Regions from separate parts of the Homo sapiens genome. Here region 2 is linked to region 1. Evidence: fine-mapped expression QTL. Tissue or cell type: monocytes. Region 1 holds a variant in brackets; the other region holds the start of a gene. All regions are shown on one strand. Distances are between the middles of the regions.

Evidence for each region. PIP is the estimated chance that this variant, and not a neighbour inherited with it, causes the effect.
Region 2: it holds the start of DCTN4, and the variant in region 1 is fine-mapped to the expression of DCTN4 in monocytes (TOPMed, PIP above 0.99). The same link has a PIP of 0.9 or more in blood mononuclear cells and whole blood.

Annotation. Positions count from the first base shown.
Region 1 is chr5:150,705,997-150,714,092 of GRCh38, forward strand. It overlaps DCTN4 (dynactin subunit 4), which reads right to left. Exons shown (of 13, transcript NM_016221.4): 13 at 2,444-5,366. The coding sequence ends at 5,153. Among named protein-coding and RNA genes, the nearest start is that of RBM22, 9.0 kb to the left of the region's middle. The variant T/G (reference allele first, on the strand shown) is at 4,606.
Region 2 is chr5:150,754,568-150,762,661 of GRCh38, forward strand. It overlaps DCTN4 (dynactin subunit 4), which reads right to left and starts at 4,450. Exons shown (of 13, transcript NM_016221.4): 1 at 4,292-4,450; 2 at 1,850-1,920. The coding sequence starts at 4,426. RefSeq lists enhancers at 3,726-3,795, 4,226-4,525.

The DNA.
Region 1 (8,096 bases):
GAGTTTTGCTTTTGTTGCCTACACTGGAGTGCAATAGTGCGATCTTGGCTCACCACAACCTCCAGCTCCTGGGTTCAAGCGATTCTCCAGCTTCAGCCTCCTGAGTAGCTGGGATTACAGGCATGCAACACCACACCCGACTAATTTTATATTTTTAGTAGACATGGGGTTTCTCCATGTTGGTCAGGCTGGTCTCAAACTCCTGACCTCAGGTGATCCACCTGCCTCAGCCTCCCAAAGTGCTGAGATTACAGGCTTGAGCCACCGCACCTGACCTGGGCTTGGGTTTTATTGCTATGGTTGCTTTCAATGTACCACAGATTTCACCTACTCTAGCATTATTCTATACTGTAGGTTGGGGCTGAAGAACTCAAGTGTTCATGCTTCATCCTCAGCTTACAGCTGTCCTGCCTACCTGCACAGTGGTGACTAACTTTCTAGGCCTTTGCCCATCCCCTAGAAATGGATGCTTGTTACTAGCTGCTTGGTAGGCTGGTAGCGGGGTAGAAGTAAAGGGGTTCTCTGTTGTTCTAATTCAATTCAGCCTCAGTCCTCAGCAGGCCCTGTGTGGGCCTTAGGAATAGATCTTTTCTCGGCATTCTTGCCCCCCAAAACTGGGCAAGTTCATTAAATGAGTGTAAAGAGGAAAGAAGTGTGAGAAATGAGATTTGGTATACTGCAAGGTTGGGAAGATGGGAAAGAACTAGCAAAGAATACGGAAGGAAACTTTCTAGCAGGGTAGACAGAAAATTGTTACTGAATTAAACTGGGGTCTGCTCACCCAGTGCCACAAAGCCATTGACATCAGGCTAGTAGCAAGAGAAAGTGAGGCATTTTATTGCAGGGCACCATGCAAGGAGAATTGCACAGATCATGCTTAAGACCCGAACTCCCAGATGGCTTAAAGCTACGGGTTTTTAAAGGCAGGGAAAGAGAGGTTACAGGCAAAGTCATAAATCAATACATAGAGGCTATACATTGGTTTGACCTAAAAAGGTGGGACATCTCAAAGCTGGGATGGGGGTGGACTCAAAGGTCATAGGTGGTTTCAAAGATTTTTTGATTTATGATTAAGGCGGTGAAGCTGTCTAAACTTGGGATCCACAGAAAAGAATGTTAGCTCTGGCCGGTGGACATGACTTCCTCCAGGCCCCTCAGGAAGCAACTTAGAACAATGAACAGTGGTCAGAGTTCAGTTCTCAGTTTCCCCTTATCTGAGGTTTAAAGCTGGTGAGAGTTCAGGTTTCTGAAAAGTTGGGGACATGTATGTTACCCTTAGTTTCTATAGGGAACAAAACATCTCACTCTGACTTCCTTGGCTATTGTGTTCAGCTACTTCTTGCTTATCAGGTTGCTCATTAACTTCTTTGGGCTAGCTAGGTGCCTAGAATTCCCTTGAAGGAACTCAAGATTTCCCTTTATTTCCATGCATGGAGGGGCCCACAAGCCTCCTAAAAGGGGGTCCCTGCTCTGCCTCAAAACCAGGAGTGTTGTGTTCTGGAAACCAAGCAAAGCCTTTCAAGAAGGGAGAGATAAACTGTCAGATCTACTGAAAAATTGCATAGTTAAGGACTGAGAACTGACCCTGTATTTAAGTGTGGTGATTGCTGGTGACCTTGACAAGAGCAGTTTCGACCAAGTGGTGGCGGTGAGAGTCTAACTGGAATGGGTTCAGGTGAGAATGGAGGAACTGGAAGGTTGAATTAGGGTTTTTTTTTTTTTTTTTCCCTTGAGACGGAGTCTCGCTCTGCTGCCCAGGCTGGAGTGCCGTGGCGTGATCTTGGCTCACTGCAAGCTCCGCCTCCCAGGTTCACGCCATTCTCCTGCCTCAGCCTCGAGAGTAGCTGGGACTACAGGCACCTGCCACCAGGCCCGGCTAATTTTTTTTATTATTTTTAGTAGAGACGGGATTTCACCTTGTTAGCCAGGATGGTCTCGATCTCCTGACCTCGTGATCTGCCCGCCTCAGCCTCCCAAAGTGCTGGGATTACAGGTGTGAGCCACCGCACCTGGCCATTTTTGTTTTTTAAAAAACTTTTACTTAAACAGAGACAAGGTCTTGTTAGGTTTTCCAGTCTTGTCTCAAACTCCTGGCCTCAAATCATCCTCTCACCTCGGCCTCCTAAAGCGCTGGGATTACAGGTGTGAGCGATCATGCCCAGTCAGAGTTAGAGGAGTTTTGCTGTACAGGGAGTGGAGAAATGGAGTGGCAGCTGAAGAGGAGAGTGAGGCCAATTTCTTTTTTAAGATGAGAGAAATCACATGCTAATGGAAAAGGGAAGGAGGGAGCTGCCGATGCTATCTGTGAATAGGTAAGAGGATGAGCTTCAGTGTTAAGAGGTGGGGCTGGGTTCCAACAGGAAGAGTATGAATAATTCATCTAAGTAAGAGGAGGGAAGGAACAGTTATGAAGGTACAGATGAAGGTGATGAGTGGCCACTGGTGGAGTCAGACCACTGTGTATATTGTAAAGGATATCTTTAGAAGCAATGACCCAGGATAAAAACTGGTAGAGGTCTAACAACATTTATATAATGGTTCTGTGAATATGTATATAAGAAGCTCAAAGCAACATCTACTTATATATTATGGTGAACTAACCTGCTAAGAGATTTTAGATTACTTCATTTAAGGAATGGAAGGGAGCATGCCCCACCAACTCTCTTAGCCAACTCTCTTAACTTCACGCTTGTCTTTTGGCTCTGAGCCATGCTACTTAGTATCTACATGAGAGCAAACAAAAGACACGCTCAAGCTTTGTCTGCTTTATTTCACTACATTAAGTTAAGCAATAAGGCAAAACAGTAACCTGTCATTCATAAAGATCAAGGAGTACCTCTCTGTCCCAAAAGGGACCAAAAAGGGTGTTTCTTCACAAATATGCATGACACTTAGCTCATTATGCTGATAAGCACTTCAAACAAAAGAAAAGGTCAGTAGGTGAATCAAGTAACAAATCCAAATTAACTTAGCCTAAGTTTCCAAAGCTGTAGTTTCAAGTGCTAATGGGATCTAACTTTCCTGTGGTGGTGCATACTGACTAGCATTAAAATTTTTGCACCTCATCTAATATAAAAAAGGCAACAAATACAATTCCTAATTCACCAGCTGCAGGTATTGAATCATTTCTACGAACACACAGAATACTAGCTTACACTAAAACCTATCTTGAGGAAACATTAAACCAGTGGCTCTATTATTCTGCAAGTTAGTTTGGCTTCTGAAGAAAAAAGTTTATGATCAAAGTGTTTTGTGTTTCTGTGTATGGGAATGATGAGACCCATACTTCAACATTATTACTTTGGGGAATAAATACCAGCTACCTGCCATAAACGCATGACATGTGTGTAGTCTATGCAAACGTGTAAACATATGAAGCTATTCTCTACTCTATGCCCATTTCCTCCACTGGCAAATATGGAGCAGTGATTTCACAGTAGGCTCTAGCAGGTAGTGAAATAAAAATTTGAGACTCTGTGGGGTCACAAAAAAATGAAACTCTTTCTATAGTCTGCAAATCTGTAATTACCCATCCCCCTGCTCCAACTCCTAAGAGGCTAAATGTTATTACCATAATGTTAGAGATGAGTATTTTCCTTCTTACACTGCATCACATATATTACTCTGTAGGACTGTTTCATAAAATTGGCTTGACCTTTGTACAATTAGTACAATTTAGTGTCTTTTAGAGTACAATTTAGTGTCTTTTAAAAGCTTCCTAAATATTTAAAACATTTTCAAGGGAAGCTTACAAGGACTATGTCCCATCTGTATTCTACATTATAATGTTATCTTTAATTTTTTAAGACTTAAAACAAGACCAAGGTAAACAAAAAATCTGTATTTTCCTCAAGTCTCTTGGCCACTTACTAACAATACTTTTACAGAAAACACGGTGCAGCTGGTGGTCTACTTTATCAAGTTTCATTTTAGAAAACATCATAGAAATTAAGGTTAGCAACCCAACTCCAGGATACCAAGTGAAAACAGCAAGTCTGCTGTTAGGCCAGAACTGTGGGCTACTTGCTGAACTATTTTATGGTTTACAATCAAAATGGTCTTATTTGACTCACCACATGACAAAAGTCTTAAACTTAGTAAGGGGGAAAGTTCTTAATATCCAGTTTTGGATTCAAGAGATTATAATAGTTAATTTCCCCTTCAAATCAATGGAAAGAATGCTAGTTGAGAATATTCTAAAAATCTAGCCTTTAAAATGTTTTCTGCATTCCAGAAATGAACCTGTCCACTCAGGTTTTCTTTGGGTTCTTTTCCAGGTCCCAAACAGAACAACTTAACTGAGTTAAAGAGGCAGAACAGGGAAGGGGTAGGAAGTAAGACAAATAAAGATTGCCCCCCTGTGGCAGCATTAATCCCTGGGTATTGTGGCAATATTGAAAACGAATGGAATCTGCTACCCCCTTGACATGACATGTAATTGTTTGCTTCTCAAATTCTTCTTAAAAGATCCATATTTTACTGGGAAAAAAATTAAGAACAACTAATACGTGTCCTGTATTCACTTAGAAAAAGAGGGCAAATGAGAGTGCCTTAACAACTTCACAGGTTTTTCCAATCATCATGATACTAAAGATAAAGTGACAA[T/G]TCAGTTTTTCAGTTATATGGAAATCTATGGCAAAATGGCAGCCATTATGGCAATGAAGGGATATGTTTTAGACTGTTAGATGATATTTAACGGAATGCAGAAAGCAGTTGGTACATTGTGACCAATGCTGGATCATTAACAGCAGGTCTACCTTTGGGTTATCATTTAAGTTTCATCTGTGACATTGTGATCCTTAGTGAGATCAGATCAAGAGACAGTACAGAGTTTCTCAGGTGGTAAATACAATGCCATTCCAAGGAACACCCATCCCCTTTCCTAGGATGGAATTATGCTGCTGTTACTCAACGTGCAGGGTTCAGTGAGGGAGACACAGACTTACTGGTGTCAACAGGGGTGAGAGCAAGAGCAACAGCAGCTACCCTGTGTTCCCAATGCCTTGCCTATGCTCCCACTTTCTTAGCAATAGAATTCCGTAGTGCATGGGTACATCGTTATAAACAAGGCCTAATGAAGCAGCAGCTTCCACATTTTAACGCAGGTTTACGGTGATACTGTCCTTTGGGATCTGCCCTCCAGTGGAACCTTTTAAGGAAGAAGTGGGCCCAAGCTAAGTTCCACATGCTGGGTGAGCCAGATGACTTCTGTTCCCTGGTCACTTTCTTCAATGGGGCGAATGGGGGCTGCCAGGTTTTTAAAATCATGCTTCATCTTGAAGCACACGGTCACTTCACCCTCCTCACGCTGTGGTGTAACTTTGATGAAAATACCCACTTTGTTGGCCTTTCTGAAGGCTATAATGCTATGGAAAGAAAAAAAAGCAAGTATTAGGTAGATAAAAAAATCAGCCAAACCACTAAGACTTACAGTAAAAGTCTTTCACCTTATTCTTTCCTTCAGCACACACAGAAAACCTATAAACACTTTGTTCTTAACCTACCAAGTATTTTTTTGTTTTGTTTTGAGACACAGTCTCGCTCTGTCGCCCAGGCTGGAGTGCAATGGCTCCACCTTGGGTCACTGCAACCTCTGTTTCACGGGCTCAAGTAACTCTCCCATCTCAGCCTCCCGAGTAGCTGGGACTACAGGCATGCACCACCACACCTGGCTAGCTTTATATATTAATACGTATATTTTTTGGTGGAGATGGGGTTTCGCCACGTTGCCCAGGCTGGTCTCGAACACCAGGGCTCAGGTGATCTGCTTGCCTTGGCCTCCAAAAGTGCTGGGATTACGGGCATAAGCCAACACGTTGGCCATATATTTTTCTATGAGCTTATACTTTTCTGCTTTTCTAACCAACACAGATGGTACACACTATTCCATAACTTGCTTTTTTTTAACTCTGTTTATCACAAACACCTTTTGACGCTGGTATATACAGATCATCTACAATCTATGTAATGGTTGCACAGTATTCAATTATGTGTTTACCATAATTGGCATATACTGAGGTTGCTGACAACTTTTCTCTATTATAAACAATGGTGCTGCAAACATCCCTTTACATTTACCTCTGTGCAAATGCAATATTTCTATAGAACATAGACTCATACCGTGGAAAGTTATTTATTTATTTATTTTTTTGAGATGGAGTCTCGCTCTGTCACCCAGGCTGGAGTGCAGTGGCGCAATCTTGGCTCACCGCAACCTCCGCCTCCTGGGTTCCAGCGATTCTCCTGCCTCGGCCTCCTGAGTAGCTGGGATTACAGGTGCACACCATCACGCCCAGCTAATTTTTATAATTTTAGTAGAGATGGGGTTTCACCACATTGGTCAGACTGGTCTCGAACTCCTGATCTCAGGTGATCCACCCGCCTCAGCCTCCCAAAGTGCTGGGATCACAAGCATAAGCCAATGCACCCGGCCTTATTTTTATTTTTTAGAGACAAGGTTTTGCTCTGTTACCCAGGCTGGAGAGCAGTGGCACGATCATAGTTCATGGTAGCCTTGACCTCCTAAGCTCAAATGATCCTTCTGCCTTGGCCTCCCAAAGTGCTGGGATTATAGGCATGAGCCACCATGCCTGGCCATACTGTGGGAAGTTTTAATAACTCAGTGCTTTAAGGGAAATTTTGGAACACCATAAATCAAGAATGTTTTTGTAAATAACTTATGTAATTAGGAATTTTAGCACAAAAATGTCTCTTCATTGAGGTTTGCATTTCAATTTCCCCTCATTTGTGCATACAGTTTGTGCTTTAATAACTTAGTTTCTGAAAGTAAAAGGGCAATGAAATAAACAGAATTTGTCTACTACCCAAATGACATTCAGTTACTCTAAGAAAGGTTACTGGGATTACATATTTACATATTTATACAGTGTTAGTTTCCAGAAATCTGAAAGTTCTATTAAATCTAATAATGTAAAATATAATTAATTCAGTTTTTAATTACTCTATCATGTAATCAGGCTGAAATCTGATATCTCAGACAATCATTCCAGAAGTATATCTTGGCTTAACAAATTTCTGTACCTAATTAATTTGAGGACCCACATAAAGCAAGGATTTGAGAGAACACATTTTGTACTGTACAACTCAGCACATTTTGTATTACAGTAACTAACCAGACCTTTGATTTGTATGAGTCATGTAAAAAATAATTCAAACAGTTTAAAATGGTAAAAAGAAAAACATCAGTCTTTCTTTTTATCCTTAATTTCCCAGGCAACCACTGATACCTGGGAAGCTTTTCCAAAACAAATTTGGATTTCTGGTCCCTAGCTAGACCTGCTAAAAAAAATCCTCTGGGGTTAGGGTCTGGAATGCTATCGAACAACAAAACAAAACAACACTTGACCTGGTGCTTTCTGAAGTTAACCCACGTTTGGTATCACTAAACTAATCTCACCTTTGCCTTCACTTTATTTTTCTTTTCTTTTCTTTTTTTTTTTTTTTTGAGACGGAGTCTGGCTCTGTTGCCCAGGCTGGAGTGTAGTGGCGTGATCTGAGTTCACTGCAACCCCCGCCCCTAGGGTTCAAGTGATTCTCCCATCTCAGCCTCCCAAGAAGCTGGGATTACAGGCACGTGCCACCACGCCTGGCTAATTTTTGTATTTTTAGTAGAGACAGGATTTCGCCATGTTGGCCAGGCTGGTCTCAAACTCCTGACCTCAAGTGATCTGCCTGCCTCAGCCTCCCAAAGTGCTGGGATTACAGGCATCAGCCACCACACCTGGCTTCACTTTATTTTTCTAACCCACCTTGTTATCTCTTCTCTCTAATATCTTGTTGAGAAAGCTTTTGATCATTCTGTCAAAAAACCGTAAATGGGCCAGGCATGGTGGCTCACGCCTGTAATCCCAGCACTTTGGGAGACCAAGTCGGGTGGATCACTTTAGGTCAGGAGTTCAAGACCAGCCTGGGCAACATGGCAAAACCCCATCTCTACTAAAAATACAAAAATTGGCCAGGCGTGGTGGCGCTTGCCTGTAATACAAGCTCCTCAGGAGGCTGAGGCAGGAGAACTGCTTGAACTCGGGAGGTGGAGGTTGCAGTGAGCAGGAGATCACGCCATTGCACTCCAGCCT
Region 2 (8,094 bases), 49 kb after region 1:
GTAGCAATGAGCAAGCCTAGCAGCCATATCTTGGTTTCTAAGACTATTCTCCAATAAAGTGAACCAAGGCTCCTTGGAGAAACAACTCTAAGACTGAGACAGAAAATATACAAGATGAGGCTGGGCACAGCAGCTCACGCTTGTAATCCCAGCACTTTGGGCCAAGGCAGGTGAAGTGCTTGAGCCAGGAGTTCAAGACCAGCCTGGGCAACATGGCAAAAGCCTATCTCTCCAAAAAAATACAAAAATTATCCAGGTGTGGTAGCATGTGCCTAGTCTCAGCTACTCAGGAGGCTGAGGTGGAAGGACTGCTTGAGCCTGGGAGGTTGAGGTTGCAGTGAGCCAAGATTGCACCACTGCACTTCAACCTAGGCGCCAAAGTGAGACCCTGTCTCAAAAAAAAAAAAATACACACAAAACATACACACAAGATGAGTCTGGAGTATCTTGTAGTACTGGTAAGAAAATGATCAAAGTAATGAACAGAGAACTCTCTCCTGCTCCTAATGATGGGGGTATGTCAAAGGGATCTAGGAGTCAACTGAAAGAGCTCCCAATGGCCAAAGCTGAAATAATTTGAGCAAAATAAATAAAGTAGTATTGGATTACAAGCCAAAATATAAAATGAATATTCATAATCCCACTGTCCTATAAGTAAGTGATTTAAAAAACAAATAAACAAGAGGAGAAGAGACAGATCTTCCATGCAAAAGAATTCCAAATCCAAATAATTTATGCAGATAGTCCTCAAGGACAGGGGAGCATAATTCTCTAGTCTTTATGGGCTGTGACAGTAATTTTCCTTCCAAAAAGTAGAGTACAAAAAAAGAAGGAAAAGCAGTAACTTTACAGTGGAGAAACCTGACAAACACTAGCTCAAGCCAGATAATCAAGGTTAACACCAACAGTGACAAGTCATAAGTATTTACCCTTGATATGATGTAATCAAAGATGGCACTTTACCTCTGTGGTTCTCCTCCGCAAAATACATTCCCCTAGTCTGATGAGAAAAAAACATCATGCAAATCCTAATGAAATGACATTCTATAAAATACCTCACCAGTACTCCTCAATACTTTTGAGGTCATCAAAACCAAGGAAATTTTAAGATTCTCCTATCACACCACACCCAAGAGGAGTCTAGAGACATAACTATAAATATAATGTGATATCCTGAAAAGAATCCTGGAAAAAAAGGAGACCACAGAAAAACTAAGGAAATCTGAATAAAATGTAGTGTATTGGTTCATTAATTGTAACAAATATACCACACTAATGTAAAAAGTTAACAATAGGGGAGACTGGATGTGAGGTAAATGGGAACTCTCCATACTATCTTCACCATAATTCTGAAGTACAAAACTGTTCTAAAGTAGAAAATCTATTTCAAAAATCAAAGGGGATTTCATCTTTGGCAATGGTGATGCTTAAAAATGAAAAAGAGCTGGTTAAAAAAGTTAATTTCATGTGTCTTTTTTTTTTTTTTTTTTTTGAGACAAAGACTTGCTCTGTTGCCCAGGCTGGAGTGCAGTGGCACAATCTTGGCTCACTGCAATGTCTGCCTCCCAGGTTCAAGCAATTCATCTGCCTCAGCCTCCCAAGTAGCTGGGACTACAGGCGCGTGCCACCACACCTAGCTAATTTTTTGTATTTTTAGTAGAGATGGGGTTTCGCCATGTTAGCCAGGATGGTATCAACCTCTTGACCTCGTGATCCCTGCCTCCGCCTCCCAAAGTGCTGGGATTACAGGCGTGAGCCACCATGCCTGGCCCATGTGTCTTTTTAACTAGCTATTTTAGAGAACAGTCAAGGAAAATAGGAAGAAAAAAAAAATCAGTCCAGGTCTTACCTATTCTTTTTTAGTTTGGCTTCAGCCGATGGCATATTTTCTAAACAACTGGGACAATAATGGGAGTCCACCTAGGAGGAAACAAGAAAGAAAAAAAAAACCAGAGGAGAACTCAGTTTAACTTGTGTATATGTCTTGTCAAATAGTGAATTTTAAAATATGTTATACTGTAGCAGAAAGTAGACTGTTTTCTGCTTAGGGTTTATTCTTCTTCAGTCACCTGTTTTTTTTTTTTCTTCTTCTTCCGGATTTAAAAAATCCTTCTATTTTTCTGATCTTTCCTATTCCATCATCAGGGTTTTATGTGTTAAAAGTTGTTTATTTAACAATCTACAATTTCCAGTTGAACTCCATAGAATTCTATGATTAATAAAGAGATTAATAAAATAATCCAATTTGTAACATTGTGATAAAATATCCTCCTGTCTAGGCTAGCTTTATATGACTATAAAACTTGACCATACTTTTAGGTTTTGAAGGACATTTTTTTAAAGATTTCTCATTATTGAAGTAATACAGGTTGACTGAAGGCAAGCATAAATATTTATTTACATAGTCAGCTATGGCCAACCAATTAGAGATTTTTAAACAAATTAATGGGACAGTCTTATTGTACTTAAAAAACTGGAGTCTAAAATTTAAGTTCATTTTATTTTTTAAAAGTCTGAATAATTATTTTCTTTAATGTAGGTCCTATTTGACAATTATAGAACTCTAGTCACCTGCAAATGAAAAGACAATCACTGGAACATAAATACTATGATAGAAACTGGCTTTTTTCATCATCTGCTATAAACAGGTCAATTTGAAAAGATTAATAAAGTTGTTGCTCAAATAATCTCCAGGAACATAAAATACAATATTGCTAACTAACCTCTGCACTGACTCATCAAAAAAGGCAAAATACAAGTCATTCCTTTTTGCCCCCTTTCCAAATTCTGCTTGTCCGTTCATGTGCAGCTCCAGACCCAGATTCTCCATTAGAACTTCACTGCCTGCCCCAGCCCTCAGAGCTTCATCTTTCCCTAAACTCTAATGGCCTCCATATCACAGGTACACATCAGGCTGTAAAAGATGCTGTCACAGACTGGATGTCCTAATTGAAGAGAGTCTTAGAGACAGATCATGGAGACTGAGCACTCTATTCACCACAGGAGAATATGATCCAATAAATTCTGGAGGTGGAGCTGGAATAGGGAATCATCAAGGAGATACACATAAGGAAAGTGCTAATGGAGATGAGAAGAAAAATCGATGCCATATTTTTAATATATACGATTTTTCTTGTATTATTTAATTGCTTTTCTTGACTATTCCTATTATGAAAAGTATCTTCAATAAAATAAGTTATTAATAACACATAAAATGGCTTATAGTATGTGTTTTCATATGCATTTATTTTAACAGTCCCGGGATCTTCAGTAAAAAACACTCTGAGTTAGGCTGTTTAGATTCAAATCCAGGTCCTCCTTCCCACCCCCAAATTACTGGCTGTGTGACTTACAGCGAACACTCTGTATCTGTTTCTTTACCTGTAAAAAAAATTTTTTAAAAAAAGTATCCACTTAAATTGGTTTGAAGATTACATAAAGCACATGACATATAGCAAGTATCGAATAAGCAGCAACTATTACTACTATCAGCTTTTTCTTCACTAAGACTATGGCTTATTAAACAGCGCATTTTATGTCTTACTCGCCTTTTAATCCCTAAAGCTTACTGAATAAACAAGATGTGCCAAGCGCTGCAGAAGTTTTGGGGTTTTGTTATTTGGTGACTTTTTACTGGCCGGGGTCTTCTTTTTGAAAAATCCAACTTCGGACGCCCACTTGTGCCAGGGAAGGACAGCATTGTCCTCTAGCTCCATAAATACACTTTCAGCTTCTTACATGACATACTGTATTCTGAGCGCTTTTCACATAACTCACGCCGCCCCAACCTCTTCCCGGCTGCAGGCCTTGGCCTGAGTCAGGAACAGGGCAAGGCAGTCTGACGAGGGCCCAGTTTCTGGACAAAAGAGGAACAGAACTTTCAGGATGGGAGAACTATGAATGAGAACGCCTGCGCCTCCCTCCATCCTCGCAATAAATCCTGGAAAGGCAGTTTTTCGCCCCTTAAGTGGCCTGAACTAAGCACCCCCAGACCTTTCTCCGTAGTCCACCCAATTACCAAGCCCCATCGCAGACAGACACGGTCCCTAAGTCAAGTTTGTCCAATCAGAGGCCGCTCTAGAACCAGAAGATCCGCTCAGTCCCACCCGAGGCTGCTCCTCCTTTCCAAGTGACAGATTAGAAGCAAATTAAATCGCAGGCAAACCCGAGTGACGGAAGACATAACCAATCAGTAAGGAAGGAAAATAGCTCCAGCCTTCCGGTGGCAGTGACTAGCATGAACGCCGCGCCCCCCCCACCCCACATACTCGCTATAGGGCGACTCTGTTACCTCGTGAGACACACATTCCAGCGACCGCAGTTCGCTACAATAGCGGCAGAAGTAGAGTTGCGAGAGCGGGGCCCGAACCTTCTTTTCTCCCTGGACTAGATAGAGAACCCGGTCCGACTGCAGCAAGGACGCCATCTTGGGGAGGGAGGAGGCGATGACGCTCCCGGCGCATCACGTGACCCGAGAGCCAGCGTCTTCCTCGCTGCCTTCCCTACGACTTCCTACGTAGACTTTGACGTTAGGTTTCCCACCTCGTCCGGCTCTGCGCCCGTCGAAAACCAGAGCGCGCGTGCGCAGCTGGGATCCCTGTTTTCTCCCCAACTCTGGGCCCGTCCCCCAGCGCTTTTGTGAGCGTCCACTGCCCTTACTGCCATTAGGTCTGGACTCAGTGAGCTCCTTTTATTCTTTTCTTCCAGAATGGAAGCCTGATCTTTTGTCTTATTTACGACGGCCTCCTCTGCCCCACTTAACAGGCGAGCATCCAGGAGACAAATGGAAGGTCTCAAAGGGACAGGGCTCCGTGGGGACTGCAAGACAGGAGTCACACCAGCACTGTCTTCTGAGTCTTGCCAATGGCCTTTGGGAACTTTCACATACATTATCTCATTTGAAACGCAGGTTTTTGAGTACATAGTTAGCGTTAGGTCTAAGTCTGTATTGTGGACCTTCAATAAGTATGAAAAGGAGGGAATGAAATCAATGAATGAACAATGTTGGTAGGCGTCTACGTTTTTCTAATGTGTAAACTAAGGCTCAGGTCTGCCTCTTGGGTGAGCAGCGACTACGTGAGACTGGTATTACATGGGTGGGAAAATAATTTATCAACAGTTTTAGGTAAAGAAATGCAGATTTATTAGAGAAGGTATGAAAATACGTTGAAAGGTTGCAATGGGCAGACCAGCCAGAGAGGAGCTGACTTCAAGGAAACAAAGGCTTGCTGGAGATTTTATCCGATGGTTCTTGGGCTGCAGAGTGCTGTGCAGTACCGAGAACTCCAAGGTTACAGGGAGCTAACTTGCATGTGTCTCGTGATAGCTGAGTGCAGGAAGATTGTGAGTTATTTGCACAGGAGGGCTACGTGTCCTGCACCATGAAGAAAGGCAGACTTAGAGTGCATCTGCTCTTCTTGCTATCCCTTGGTCCCACTAGCCTGACTCCCTTTCTCTAACTGGGACTCCCCAGTATGTAAAATGACCACCTAGAACTGCCTAGCAGAAACTGGAGCCTCTGTTGCCTGCCACCAGGTCTACATTTTTATAATTGTAGTAGTGTTGTATTATTACCTGTCTGACGTTAGAGTTGGTGATTGAGAAGAAAGGGAACTGAATACTATTAGCAAACATTTATTGAGCACTTATTAAGTGCAGCACACTGTGTCAAAACTTTACATACATTGTCTAATTTAATTCTTACAACAGCTCCAAAAAGCATGTGGCTATCATTATTTCTATTTTACAGAGCAGGAAACTGAGGCACAGGGAAGTGCAGTGACTCCTCTATAAGGTTTCATAGATGGAGGTAGAACCCTTTTCTCTCTGACTCTAGTGCTTGCAGGTATAACCCCTATGTATACTCCCTCCAGCATATTTTCTAATATGGTGATGTTAATAATACCTTACATTTATATAGACCTTTTCAGCTTATACAGTGCTAATCTCACAATTTATGTCACGCTTTACCAATTGAGCCTAAAAGTCATTACTTGTTCACCAAGCAATAGCCTGGCACTAATTTAGTTTCATAGGTGACATCTGCTCCTAGGAGAGAATATATTACTAGCCAACTCATTTGCAATTATTTCTTTAGGTTAATGAATTCGTTGGTTTTCTGGTTTATAAACTAGTCTCTACTGAGTTTAAATTCCCTTTTCTGGACTATGCTGTTAAAATGAAGTCCCAGAGCCTGCAGGTACAGAAAGGCTGGAGACTTGAGCTGAATCCACATAAAACAGACACTTTTTAGAGCACTGATTTTAAATAATTAAGTGGCCAATTATCTTGTCCCTGCTACATGCCAGGTACTGGGGAGGGAACTAGCGATAAATGAGATACTTTCCATCCTCAAAGGCTCAGGGTTCTAGCAGGATCGAGTCCTAGTTATGCACAATGGTGACCAGCTTGATAATGTAGCCTTGTGTTGCTTTTTCACTCTACCCAGCCCTGGACTCACCCTCATTCACTTCTCAATCCTGGCTTCCTGCCTGCAGAATCTCATTTTGAGCTCTGCTTTCTAGGGGGAACTCAGGCTAATACAGAGACCCTAAAGTTGAACTGGCAGATCAAAGGATATCCACATTTAATAAATACTGGCAATAAGCCCTTGTGAAATTCTAGGCCAATTTACACTCTCACTATAAGTGTATGAGCTATCCATTTCCCACTGTTTTGCCCACCTGGCATATTATCAAATTTGAGTGGATACTTTTGGCACTTTCTAGCTATGTGATCTTGAAAAAGACATTTACACCTCAGAGTCTTGTTTCAAGACACATAGAATGAGAAGAATAATCCCTGCCTTGGTGAAAATAAAAAATCATCCAGGCTGTGAAAGCATTTTGTAAGGTATGAAGTACTAAGCACATGGAAGAAATGCTCCCTAAATATCCCAAGTATGAAAAACCCAAAGTGGTTTTCATTTTTATAAAGAGTCCTTCAGAGTAAATCCACAATAATAATGGAAAAAACTGGAAGTTAGTCAGACTTTGGTCAAATGAGGTCTTGTGAAGGGGACCGAATCTGGGCTCTGACCTCAAAGACTTAGGGTTTTCTACAGCTTAGGAATCTGGGGAACTGCTCTCACCAATGCTGGCCACCTGCCCTGGCTGCCTTCCCCACTTTTGCTTTCCTACTTGAAAACTATATTAATTATAGGGTTTCCTGTGTTGAATCTATTTACAGGCTAATCTAAAAGTCATAGTAAGTGAATAGAGGAGGAAGAAAAAAGAAGTCCCTGTTTCATCAATATCCATGCTAGCCCCTGTGGGGGCCCTTACTGCCCAGGAAATGTGGTGGTGGCAGGGCTAAAGCTAATTTCCCAAGTGTAAACATGGCAAAAGACTGCTGGCCTGCCTTTATTCTGGGAAATCTTTTGAATTGTTTTTGCTTTTGAATTGAACTGAACTTTGAATTTTTCTTTCCTTTTTTTTTTTTTTTTTGAGACGGAGTCTCACTCTATCGCCCAGGCTGGAGTGCAGTGGCACAATCTCAGCTCACTGCAAGCTCCGCCTCCTGGGTTCATGCCATTCTCCTGCCTCAGCCTCCCAAGTAGCTGGGACTACAGGTGCCCGCCACCACGGCCGGCTAATTTTTTTGTATTTTTAGTAGAGATGGGTTTTCACCGTGTTAGCCAAGATGGTCTGGATCTCCTGACCTCATGATCTGCCCTCCTCAGCCCCGCAAAGTGCTGGGATTATAGGCATGAGCCACCACGCCTGGCCCACTAAAACCACTTTTTATGAGAAGTGCACAGATGGGCCTACAGAAGATTCAGAAGCCTGACTAAAATTTGGCCAAACAGAGACTGTTTCTCACCCTCCCTCTTGCACAATTCACCACCCAACCCCGAGGCTTGCTTCTAGGAGAGCACCAGTGTATTGCTCACTGAATTGAGCAAAGTGGAATTAAAGACTGAATTCCTGCCTAACTCAGTGCCTGGCACAGAGCAAGCCCTCGGTTAGTATTTGTCGAGTGGATGAACACTATTTTAAACCATCTGGAACTTGCTGCCATATGGAAGCTGGCAACTAAAAAAATTTTTTTTTTCTTTTTCACCTTTAAGCAGTTGCTTCTTTTAGAAGGCAGAAC